4 separate regions of the Homo sapiens genome follow, and regions 2, 3 and 4 are each reported to be linked to region 1. Evidence: microRNA targets listed by miRTarBase, many of them from high-throughput screens and not tested one by one. Region 1 holds a microRNA gene; each other region holds the end of a gene's coding sequence.
What was found. The annotated mature microRNA hsa-miR-367-5p reads ACUGUUGCUAAUAUGCAACUCU and lies in region 1 at 1,084-1,105, shown strand. An mRNA with a match to its seed (bases 2 to 7 or 8) in the 3' UTR can be bound and repressed. Matches are read on the target gene's strand: a 7mer-m8 pairs with bases 2 to 8, a 7mer-A1 pairs with bases 2 to 7 and ends in A, and an 8mer does both.

Region 1 (3,000 bases):
TTTCTCGGCTCAGTGGGAGCACTCATTGTTACCCTAATCTATGCCATCAAACAAGCAGATAGGAGATTTTCTTTTTCTTTTTCTTTTTTTTTTTTAAGAGGAAGATATCTTGTGGTAATGGTTTTAGCTGTTAACATTGACATCTGTATACTTCAAAAAAAAAAAAAAGGATCCAGACCCACCCAGGATCATACATTCCCTGAGAGCTGATACATTAAAATAACAAAAGGCCCTTGTAATGATTCTCTGAGATAAAAAGGCAAAAGGAATTCAAGAGTTAAGAATAGTATAAATAGAAGTGGCTGAAGTCCCTGCCTTTTACCCTTCTGGAGGAGAACACGAATCTTTGGGAACTAGTTCAGGAAGGTAAAAAAATTTTTTTCTTCTAAAGTTATGCCATTTTGTTTTCTTTCTCCTCAGCTCTAAATACTCTGAAGTCCAAAGAAGTTGTATGTTGGGTGGGCTCCCTTCAACTTTAACATGGAAGTGCTTTCTGTGACTTTAAAAGTAAGTGCTTCCATGTTTTAGTAGGAGTGAATCCAATTTACTTCTCCAAAATAGAACACGCTAACCTCATTTGAAGGGATCCCCTTTGCTTTAACATGGGGGTACCTGCTGTGTGAAACAAAAGTAAGTGCTTCCATGTTTCAGTGGAGGTGTCTCCAAGCCAGCACACCTTTTGTTACAAAATTTTTTTGTTATTGTGTTTTAAGGTTACTAAGCTTGTTACAGGTTAAAGGATTCTAACTTTTTCCAAGACTGGGCTCCCCACCACTTAAACGTGGATGTACTTGCTTTGAAACTAAAGAAGTAAGTGCTTCCATGTTTTGGTGATGGTAAGTCTTCCTTTTACATTTTTATTATTTTTTTAGAAAATAACTTTATTGTATTGACCGCAGCTCATATATTTAAGCTTTATTTTGTATTTTTACATCTGTTAAGGGGCCCCCTCTACTTTAACATGGAGGCACTTGCTGTGACATGACAAAAATAAGTGCTTCCATGTTTGAGTGTGGTGGTTCCTACCTAATCAGCAATTGCGTTAACGCCCACACTGTGTGCAGTTCTTGGCTACAGGCCATTACTGTTGCTAATATGCAACTCTGTTGAATATAAATTGGAATTGCACTTTAGCAATGGTGATGGATTGTTAAGCCAATGACAGAATTTAAACCACAGACTTACTTTGATAGCACTCTTAATGGTATAACTTCTTCTCCCATTTTATGTCTCTCTTTATGTTTTTTCTTATGTTTCCTTTTTGTTTTCAAGAGAGAGCTATCTTTTAGATCTCCAGTATCCTTTTCCTCTTCAGTAGAGATTTCTATATCTTGAAATAAATAAAAAAGCTCTCCGTTAAGACATGGGGCTGTGAAATGGGTGAAACAGAAGCCAATTAAAACCTAATTAATTAAAAACTAATTAATTAAAATTAATTAGTTTTATCTAATTAAAACCTTGTAGTTTTACCTCTATTTTCCTTGGAAGCTTCTGATGCTTCCTTAATGATGTCTTTCTGAATAATTTTCTTTACTTTTGATCGGGGAGCTAGGGATTCTGCATCTTCAGAGCTGCTTCTCTTCCTCTTCCCTGTTCTGACTTCAGGTAAGCTAGATGCTTCAACTCTGTCCCGTTTTTTCTTTTTCTTTGAGCACTGCTTTTGGGGTTCAGTGGACTCAATGTCAGAGCCCTCAGATGTGGGTCTGGATCTTTTCATTTTACTGATGCTGGTGTTGCTTGTGTCCATGTTTTCTTCTTTGGCTTGGATATTGTCTTCCTTTTTCATTCGGCCTTTCTTCTTCTTTTTCTTTTTCTTCTCTTCTGTAAAAGTGCCATCATTATTAGTTCATCTTACTTCAACTACACCTATTTAAATATTGAAAAATACTCACCCACAACTCTTAAGGCTGGAATGGGCTTATTTTTCACTGTTTTAGGAAATATGCCAGGTTTTCTTGGTGCTTCTTCTGGTGGGTTGTTAAGAAACTGAAATGATTGCAAAAGTTACTATTTTAATACTTGTTTTCTTTTCTTTCTTTTTTTTTTTTTAGGATCTGGACTTACCTCAATTGCTTTTGCTGCTTGTTCTTTTGTTTCAAATTCCACAAACGCAAATCCCTTTGGATCTCCAGTAGACTTATAATGTGGTATACTTATATAAACAACATTGCCACATTTCCCAAATACTCTTTCAATCCAGCTGTGATTAACATTTTTGGGAAGTAACTCCTATTATAAATTAAAAGCAATATTAGAGTTTTTCACAATCAGAATGTCAATAAATTTTTAACTTAATTATATTGTTTCTGTGCCAGTTTCTGACTGGGGACCCGGGTTCTTAAGCTTACCACATACACTGTGCGTTCATCCTCATCCTTTGGTCTTTCCCCCAGAGGTTTTTTCCTCCGGATTCTGGTGCCTTCCAAATCAAGCTTTAAAATAGTATATTACATTAATAAAACTAATATTATTTATAATTGTAAGCTATAATCATATAATAATCATTACGTTAACATTCTTTATAATTATAAACTATAAATATAAACAGTAGTTATTCTTGATTCTTACCTCTACAACAGCTGAACTTCTCAATGCTCTGGCAATTAACTTCCCATCAGTAGTCAATTTTTTCATTTTGTTAAAAGACACAAGTAGTGATATATCAACATCTAAAGAAAATGAAAAAGTTAATATGTTAGTGTATCAGCAGGATTAATTCAATTTGGTACAATTTAACCTGCCCCTCAGGCCCTCAGGCTCGGTGGCTCATGCCTGTAATCCTAGTACTTTGGGAGGCCAAGGCGGGTGGATGGGGGAGTTCAAGACCAGCCTGGCCAACATAGTGAAACCCCATCTCTACTAAAAATACAAAGAATTAGCTGGGTGTAGTGGTGCACGCCTGTAATCCCAGCTACTCGAGAGTGAGGTAGGAGAATCGCTTGAACCCAGGAGGCAGAGGTTGCAGTGAGCTGAGATCACTCCAGCCTGGGAGAAAGAGAC
Region 2 (3,000 bases), not on the chromosome of region 1:
TAGAGTAGAGAGAATAGTATTACTATCATAAATGCCCATGTGCCCATTACCAAATTTCAAAATCACCAGCTCATGTTTGTCCCACTATCAAAACTTCACAAGTGAGATGCTCGCTTGGCTTAAGCTGTTAACTGAGCATTCATTGAACTGTGAAGGCAGAGTAAAATCATCATCATATATGAAATCCTGTAAATAGATTGTGAAAGGTTACCTCTAAACTGTAAAGTGTAAATAGAGAATTTGTTATCTCACAGAATAAAATTCCCCATGTAATATGTAAATCTAGAAGGAAACACAAAAGTTAAAAAAATTGCTCACAAAGGGCAGAAGGAAAAAAAGTAAGACTAAAATAAAAATAAAATAAATGTTTAAGATTCACAAATGGTAAATCAGCTGATCCTTAACTTTCTGAAGTCCTGTATCTGTTTCCCCCAAAGAAGAAAAGACTGATCATTCTTTGTTTGTTTTTCAGGAATCCTGGGAGCAGTAATTTACAGAAAATAACCAAGGAGCCAATAATTGACTATTTTGACGTCCAGGACTAAGAAGATCATGATGCACTTAGATAAAAGAATGATTAGGTATAGTGGAGACTTATTTGCCAGCAGATAAATCATGCCCGTTCCCCTCTGCCTGGCAGAATCACAGTCTCACATACTGTCTTGTACTGACACATCCAAAGCATGAGTGTGTCAGAAATCCCTTGTCTATTCCTGTCTGTATAAAGTGTTTCATTATGACCAGATCTCTGATTGTATGGTCACTAGGTATGCAATCACGCATTCAAAGAGGCTCTTTACACCATCACTGTGATTGCTCTGAGAGTTGAGGGACTATTGGGCTTTATTTGGACAAACCAAACTTTTAGCCTGAAACCAACTTTATGCCACTAAGTCATAGCCTCAGTTGTCCCAGTTATTTGTCCTCCTGAAAATGCCTGAAACATCAGACAGACATTGCTTGCTTTACCCAAACTGATCAAAATCTTTAGGAGCACAAATGAATTTTTTAGTCTGAAATACCAAATAATGAATTGGTATACCATATCCGGAATCACACATGTTATCTTAAACCCAGCCATCATACCTAAGTCTTTTGCCAAAACCTCTCATAGGTATATCTAGCTGAACTTATTTTGGCATTTTCAATGTGATCAGTTCTAGACCTAGAAGGGGGTCAGGCTGCTTTACAGAATTCTATTTCCTTAAGTCCCTGGCACTTCTCATACCACATCACTGAACCTGTTCAGTAACAATCAGTTTGGCCGTCCCCCATGATGGTAGGAAATATAGAGAGCAAGTTCTTCTGCCAGGGTCACACTGTGGTCTCTGAACTGACCAGTATATCCCTAACTCCTCTTTGATAGAGAAAGAGTCTCAAATGGACAACTGTCCTGTGTTGCTTTCCCTAGGCCTTCAGCAGCCTATTGGCTCTCCCTGCCTCTGAGCTCTGGACTCTGTTTGAATATTCCAAGTAGTATATGGACAGTCCAGGGCTTATGCCCAGCAGCCCACTGGAGGCATTCTTCAGGCTCCTTTAAGGCAGGTGCATTGATAGTTCCATTAGTGTGACCCTTGCATTGGCACCCCTCCAGCCTGGAGGCCAGGCTTCCAGCAACTTCCTTCTGCCCTAGAGCAAGCCATGAGCCCCAGAGCAGTAGCAGGAGACTTGAGAAGTAGAGTGACAAAAACAAGCACTTAATTAAATTATAAAATTTAACTTTATAGGGCTGCCTTTTGGTGTTTTCATTTTTTTATTTCTTTTCATTTTTTTTCCTCAATCCTCCTCCTCCTGTAGCAGGGCTGTCCTTTGGTCCTTACCCAGTCTGCTTCAAAAGGGATCAGGTACAGCAGCAGGAACAGGTGACTGGAGGGAAGTGACACAAAACAAAACCACCTCTCTCTGGACCCATGTAGTGCAGGTCAGTGGCCCCACACACAACAGGAAGCCCATGAGCATCTGTTACCTCTTTCAAGCAGTGGGTTCAGTGGGTGAATAGTACGTGTGAGAGTATCTCAGAATCAGCAAAAGGCAGGAGACCTGACTTCAGATTCTAGCTGTGCCACATAATTTGCCGCTTGATGCGATGAAAGTTTCACTGACCTCATTAGGGTTATGAAGATTAAAGGAGTAATACACGTGGAGGTACCTGATCCTCAAAGTTCATAAAAATGATACTTAGTATCTAGAAAATATGTACACATCTTCCTCCATAATACTAGCCAAGTAGAAGGTGTGGAATGCTAACCAGGCCTCTTCTGGTGAATATTTGCATGCCTACCCTGTGCCAGCCTTGTGCCAGGGCTGTGGGAAGCAGCCTGGTTTCGTACATTTAGTAATCCAGGGAGGACACACGTGAACAGATGTTCTCAGTGGAATTGGCTAGTCTGCCACCAACAGGTTGTTAATCGGTTATTAAAAGCTGAAGAGTCCTAAGAGGAATATTTTGTGAAGTTGCGGTAGAAATGGGTTAGCTCTGGGGGTCAGAGCAGGACACGTGTGGGAAAGTGAAATGGGAGGAAGCATTTGAGCTGAGGCTTGAGATGGTAGGCTGCCATTTGGAGGAGGAAAGAGGCCCATGCTGAGAGAAGGTAAACAGCAGGAGACAGGGCTGGGGGAATGGTTGAGTAAGGGTTGTCCAGAGCAGGCAGACAACTAGGGGCACAGGTGATGAGGCTGGACAGGTGGACAGGGGTCAGCTCGTGGAGAGCCACAGGGAGTGACAAGAATTCTAAGCAGAGTGGCATGGCCAGATTTAGGATCTAGACCAGGATTCAGCAAATGTTTTGTGAAAAAAGATCAGATAGTAAATATTGTAGACTGTGAGACTTATAGTTTCTGTTGCAGCTATCCAACTCTGCCATCGTAGTGTGAAAGCAGCCGTAGACAATATGCAAATGAAAAGAGTAAGGCTCTGTTCTAATGCTTTATTTGTGCACACCGAAATAATTTCATATGATTTTTATGTCACAAAATATTCTTTTGACTTTTTTCCCCAAC
Region 3 (3,000 bases), not on the chromosome of region 1:
GCCTGGGCGGTAGAGTGAGACTCCATCTCAAAAACCCCAAAACCTGGCATTATCAACTGCAGAGTCAACCTGTATAATTTTAACAAAACAGAGCAGTATTTCTGTTCTCAATTTTCAGAGTTGGCAGGAAGATCAGTATTCAAACACTGCAGCAAGTCACACAGTGTTATTCCTTGTCACTCAGAAAGCCTCTCTCCAGCACCAAGGCCTGACTGAGCCTGCGTCTCTTCTCTTACAGGCATGACAGCAAGCGCTGTGGCGGCTTTGATCCTCATGACGTCCTCCATCATGTCGGTCGTGGGGTCCCTGTACCTGGCCTACATTCTGTACTTTGTGCTGAAGGAGTTCTGCATCATCTGCATCGTCACGTACGTGCTGAACTTCCTTCTTCTCATTATCAACTACAAACGACTAGTTTACTTGAACGAGGCCTGGAAGCGGCAGCTGCAACCCAAGCAGGACTGACGCCCGACAGACTCCACCCTAACAGTCTCAAGCCCCTTTCCATTCAGTTTATTTTGCAGCAGGTTTTTATTATTATTATTATTATTATTATTCACAACAGACACTTTCCCTAAGAATCTCAAACTGATTTTTAAAAATCCGGTAAATTAGAAGGGGCCCTCGCTATTTTCTGTGTCAGTCTTCATTTTAAATATGGATACAAAAAGGATACGCCGAGCCAATCAAAGACAAGCTTTAACTTTACTTTGAAGTGTTTCTGAAATGATAAAATGTAGCCCTAGCCCCCTGCCCTCAATTGTAAAGTGAGCAACCATTGCTAGTAATTCTTTAATGTGTATAAATTCAATTTCAGGTATAACAAATGTGATCATGACATGAAAATATTCTAGAATAGATACTGTATTAAATATTGCCATGTTTACAATATGTAATATGTTTTTAGCCGATGGATTTAAACATGTAGATTCAACTAGAATCCATTTGTGATATTTGTAAATAAAGGTAGAAATATTAGATCCATTTCTGCAGAACTTACTGTACAGTTTAGTTGGAGTGTAGCACTGAAGAACTGTCAGCTCAGCGTTGACTGAGGAGATAGTGAAAATAGCCTATACACAGCATCTTGTGAAAAGTACTGGCAGCCGTGGTTGCAGCAAATAATAGGGCAAAAAAAATAATAATAGGGTGGTCGGTTCCCTTTCATCTCCCTCTTCTGAAAGGAAAAAATTGAATTGGAACGTTCAAGTCCAGTTTGTGTTCAGTCATAAAACTGGGCCAGTTGTTAACCTTACAGAATGAGTCATGTGGCCAGACCTTCAAGTCCAAGGCCTTCAGACACTAAGGATGGGAAAATGGGTATTTTTCTTTGGAGAAAAGCTGGAAATATAAACATGGCATTTTTAGGTAAAGTTTCTTCCACTAGTTGAATTTTCATGCAGATATTTTTCCTTAACGTTGGTGCCAGTCAAGCAAAGAGTATTATGATGGAAAAGACCAGTCCAAGCCCCATCGCTCCGGAGTGGGAGCCAGTGTTCTTGCTAATTGTTTCTTTCTGCACTAACCACTCAGATGTCTAATTTAATTGTTTTGCAGTCAAATACTGGATTTGTAACCTTCAGGGCTGACATGCTGCCCAGTTTGCTTCATCGGGAGAATAGCAACAGGTAGACACATCTCAAGGCTAAATCTGCTCATGTCGCCACTGCTCTCATAATGACACACATGCAGTAAGAAGACTTTTGTAAGGGGATTTGAGTACACCCAAATGAAATTGTGACAGGATGTTTGTATGGTTAACATCTGATATCAGAATGTTAAAAGTGCCTTCTGTCTTAAATCTCAAACCAAATATTTTGTGTGTTGACCTTGGGCAGAAGAAGTGTCCTTCCCTCCTTTCTTCACCGTCAGGTAGAAAACCTGCACTCTGCAGAAGGGTCCTGTGTGATCACTTAATCCTCTGGTTGAGAAGCAGCAGTAATGTTTTTGCTTCCAACCTGATTAATCATTTTATGTTGAAAATAGTCAATGAGACCAGTATCTCTTGAGTGCTTTATTTGCCTTCTCTTTGAAGGGAGGGGACGGGCTCTGCTCTGTAAACTCAAATGTGTAGAGTCAGCAACAATTCCGTAGCTTCCAACTGACTCAGAATTGATGCAACGTAGGTCTTCTGGCCCGAGGCAGGTATCAAGTCCAAATCATAATGAACTTTTCACCAGTTTCAACCAGTTTCTTAAAAGAGAGCTTAAGTCAAGATTTCATCAAGACTTGTGTTTTCCCATGAATGTGAATCTTTCAATGGCTGTTGGAGTATGTATGTACTGTTCTTGCATTCTGAAGTAGTTAAAGAACTCTAGAAAGTACTGATTGGCCATCTGGTGTCTATGGAGAAAGAAGTCCTCACGTTTGAGGGCTGTACAGTGAGGCCATCTTGTAGCAGCGCATCCAGCTCTACCAAGGCAGTCCTCTGGTTCTTTTTTCTAAGCTACAGTGGAAATGGCCTAATGGTTAAAACTGTGGTATACATGACATCGGTTGTGCTAAACAAGTTCCTCGTGTCCCAATATCCAATGGTTTTTCATCCTATTTTGTATCAATCAACAGAGTATAGTTAAAGCTTGTCTTGATGTTGCATTCTTGCAAATGTCTTCAACTCTTACCTGAGAAAACATGGCAAAATGGTCAGCCAGACCCTTCCAGTTTTTCCTTTGCTTTTCTAAGCCTCGGGGAAACCACTGTTTCAGTTGTATAAAAACTTTTGCCACATTCCTATGGCCCAGTCGAATTAATACCCTTTTTCTCACTGAGAGAGGAACACGTACTGCCTGTCATAACAGCATTGTAATGCCAGTGTCTCAGTAACAGAATCCTGGTGGGTGTTAATTGGGTGTTTTTTGCCCTGGAGAATTCAGATTCCTTTCTATACCTCCGATTCTGCCCAGAAGAGGGGGGGAATCACCAGTGTTACAAAATTAGAAGATTGTTTTGCCTGTTTTAGACTGAATATTTGAACACTGCAGCATTACTAGCCACCAGTGT
Region 4 (3,133 bases), not on the chromosome of region 1:
ATTTTCCCTGAGGTTGGAAGTTGTGATGATGATAAATTGAGATTAAGTGAAAACGCTTTGAAGCGAAGATATCATGAATTCAGGAAATCTTGGATACTTGGAAAGATAATCAGGTAATGAGAGAAAAGTCAGAGACTTACTGTGACAAAGCCTCACTGCTTTGTGATATGTCTCAAGATGAAGGCAGGCTACGTCCTGGGAAACATTTTGTTATCAGACATGCTGCTGTTAACACAATGTATATGGAAAGTTTGGTGTGAATGCAGTAGATTTAAGTTTTGCTAGTGTACTTTTTCCATGCTAATTGAAAATGGTCATGTTCCAACATGATTTCACCGCTTCGTTGTTTCTCTCCCATCCTTCTTTTAGTTGGCTGATTGCAATTCTGGCCCAACTCAACCCTCTCTTTGGACCGCAATTGAAAAATGAAACCATCTGGTATCTGAAGTATCATTGGCCTTGAGGAAGAAGACATGCTCTACAGTGCTCAGTCTTTGAGGTGACTATGCTTGTGACCTTTCTTATCAGTATGGTCAGGCAGTCAGAGTTTGCCTTGACTTTTTCTCACATTTTATGGCCATTTTAACACGTGGCAAGGGCAAGCTGCTGAATGCAAACACGATCTGAAGAGCAGAAATAAAATTGGAACTTAAGCCTTAGCTTACCTAAATCTCATTAAGATTCTTTTTAGATTCTGCTATCACCCTGCCTTTTTAAATAAATACAGTTTAATTTACAAAATTAAGCTTGCATGCACTCTTTCAGACGCAGATCAAAAAAGTAACTGTTTATACTTGGCATTGTGAGATCCAGCAACTTTAAAAAGTGGCTGGCAGATTTAAAATTGAGCAGGTTTCTTTCCAGCAGTAGTCAGCCATCCGGACAGAACCGTTCCTGTGATGGTGTTACACTGCTGGGAGAGGAATGTCTTGTCTTCATCCGGTTGCCTGCGCCACTGTTCTGGTGGCGTCTGGCACTGGTGCAAGACAGAGCTGTGCTTCCCCGAGAGTGTGCTAAGCATTCACTTTGGCTGCTTAGTTCTAGTCTGGGAGCAGACAGAGAAAACAAAATTAAGGTTTTTGAATGCTTTGGATGGAGAAAGGTGCCTGCGTCCGTTTGTTTTGTGTTGCTATAAAGGAATACATGAGACTGGGTAATTTATATTTGGCTCGCAGTTCTGCAGGCTGTATAAACATGACACCCGTATCTGTTTGGCTTCTGGTGAGGCCTCAGGAGGTTTTTACTTATGGCAGAAAGCAAAAGGGGGGCAGCCGTGTCATATGGCCAGAGAGGGAGCAAGAGAGAGAGAAGGAGGTGCCAGGCTCCTTTAAACAAGCAGCTCTTGTGTGCACTAACAACTACTTCACTCGTTACTATGGGGAGGTATATTAGCCCATTTTCACGCTGCTGATAAAGACATACCCAAGACTGGGTAATTTATAAAGAAAGAGAGGTTTAATGGACTCACAGTTCCTCGTGGCTGGGGAGGCCTCACAATAATGGCGGAGGATGAAAGGCAGTTCTTACATGGTAGCAGCAAGAGAGAATCAGAACCAAGCAAAAGGGGTCTCCCCTTATAAAACCATCAGATCTCGTGAGACTTATTCACTACCATGAGAACAGTATGGGGGAACTGCCCCCATGATTCAGTTATCTCCCACCAGGTCCCTCCCACAACACGTGGAAATTATGGAAGCTACAATTCAAGATGAGATTTGGGTGGGGACACAGCCAAACCATATCAGGAGGGTACCAAGCCATTCATGAGGAATCCACCCCCATGACCCAAACACCTCCCACCAGGCCCCACCTCCATCATTGGGGATCACATTTCAACATGAGATTTGGAGGGGACATATAATCCAAGCCATATCAGTGCCTTTTGAAAATCAGTCTTTGGTCGTGCGCGGTGGCTCACGCCTGTAATCCCAGCACTTTGGGAGGCTGAGGCAGGTGGATCACGAGGTCACGAGATCGAGACCACGGTGAAACCCATCTCTACTAAAAATACAAAAAATTAGCTGGGCACAGTGGTGGGCGCATGTAGTCCCAGCTACTCGGGAGGCTGAGGCAGGAGAATGGCTTGAACCCAGGAGGCAGAGCTTGCAGTGAGGCGAGATCGCGCCACTGCACTCCAGCCTGGGCGACAGAGCAAGACTCCGTCTCAGAAAAAGGAAAATCAGTCTTAAGGTTGCAGCTTCTATTTGTCCTGAGGGTCAGAGAGGTTAGTAGTGGTATAGTGGAAAGATTTATTCACTGGCCGAGAGTCAGGAAACCTCTTATTTAATCTGTTCGTTGTTTTCATTATTTTGTTAAATGGAAGTTAGCTTTAAATGCCTTGACTAGATTTAGGTTCAAGTTTTTTGGCTCTTTAGGTGTTACTGTAAACTGTGTATTGCCTCCCATCTGGAGAAACAGGATGTCTGGCTCTGGCTCTCCTATGTTTAGTAAGGCTGATGTGATCACTGGGTTCAGGTAATGACAGCCTGGTTCCTTCATTTGTAAAGTCCTTTTTATCAAGTGATTTTATCCATTGATGATCATAGCCTGAATTAATCATTTTAGTTGAAATGGCAAATGGTGATTTGCTGCTGCTGCTGTTTTTTGTTTTTGTTTTTGTTTTTAATTGAGACAGAATCTCATTCTTGTCACCTAGGCTGGAGTACAGTTGCACAATCACGGCTAACTGCAGTCTTGACCTCCTGGGATTAAGCAATCCTCCTGCCCCAGCCTCCCAAGTAGCTGGAATTACAGTCATGAGCCACCATACCCTAACTTTTTTGTTTTTGAAAGAGAGTCTCTGTCACCCAGCTGGAATGCAGTGGCACCATCATGGCTTACTGCAGCCTCACACTCCTGGCTCAAGTGATCCTCCTGCCTCAGCCTCCTGAGTAGCTGGGACTACAGGCACACACCACCGTGCCTGGCTAATTTTTAAATTTTGAATAGAGACAAGGTCTTACTATGTGGTCCATGTTTTGGCTAATTTTTAAAATTTTATTTATTTTTTATAGAGAGAGAGGGTCTCTTTCTATGGCCCAGGCTGGAGTGCAGTGGTGTGATCATAGCTCACTGCTGCCTTGAATTCCTGGGCTCCCGAGATCGACCTGTCTTAGCCTCCCTAACAGCTGCA

Region 2: miRTarBase lists NFX1 as a target of hsa-miR-367-5p. The part of its 3' UTR that is shown has no 7-base or 8-base seed match.
Region 3: the mRNA of VKORC1L1 is a reported target of hsa-miR-367-5p. Seed matches in the 3' UTR shown: 7mer-A1 at 560-566, 7mer-m8 at 1,622-1,628 and 7mer-A1 at 2,560-2,566.
Region 4: the mRNA of ATP6V0E1 is a reported target of hsa-miR-367-5p. The part of its 3' UTR that is shown has no 7-base or 8-base seed match.

Annotation. Positions count from the first base shown.
Region 1 is chr4:112,646,020-112,649,019 of GRCh38, reverse strand. It overlaps MIR367 (microRNA 367), which reads left to right and starts at 1,079; the gene lies at 1,079-1,146. LARP7 (La ribonucleoprotein 7, transcriptional regulator) reads right to left here. Exons shown (of 13, transcript NM_016648.4): 3 at 2,569-2,669; 4 at 2,349-2,432; 5 at 2,065-2,229; 6 at 1,893-1,986; 7 at 1,471-1,821; 8 at 1,186-1,330. It overlaps MIR302CHG (miR-302/367 cluster host gene), which reads left to right. Exons shown (of 3, transcript NR_146092.1): 2 at 421-507; 3 at 2,052-2,300. MIR302D (microRNA 302d) reads left to right here and starts at 949; the gene lies at 949-1,016. It also overlaps MIR302A, MIR302C and MIR302B. RefSeq lists an enhancer at 1-149.
Region 2 is chr9:33,369,434-33,372,433 of GRCh38, forward strand. It overlaps NFX1 (nuclear transcription factor, X-box binding 1), which reads left to right. Exons shown (of 24, transcript NM_002504.6): 24 at 473-1,724. The coding sequence ends at 545. Among named protein-coding and RNA genes, the nearest start is that of AQP7, 32 kb to the right of the region's middle.
Region 3 is chr7:65,953,836-65,956,835 of GRCh38, forward strand. VKORC1L1 (vitamin K epoxide reductase complex subunit 1L1) reads left to right here. Exons shown (of 3, transcript NM_173517.6): 3 at 239-3,000. The coding sequence ends at 465. Among named protein-coding and RNA genes, the nearest start is that of GUSB, 27 kb to the right of the region's middle.
Region 4 is chr5:173,019,869-173,023,001 of GRCh38, forward strand. It overlaps ATP6V0E1 (ATPase H+ transporting V0 subunit e1), which reads left to right. Exons shown (of 4, transcript NM_003945.4): 3 at 370-499. The coding sequence ends at 463. SNORA74B (small nucleolar RNA, H/ACA box 74B) reads left to right here and starts at 858; the gene lies at 858-1,061. RefSeq lists a silencer at 358-652.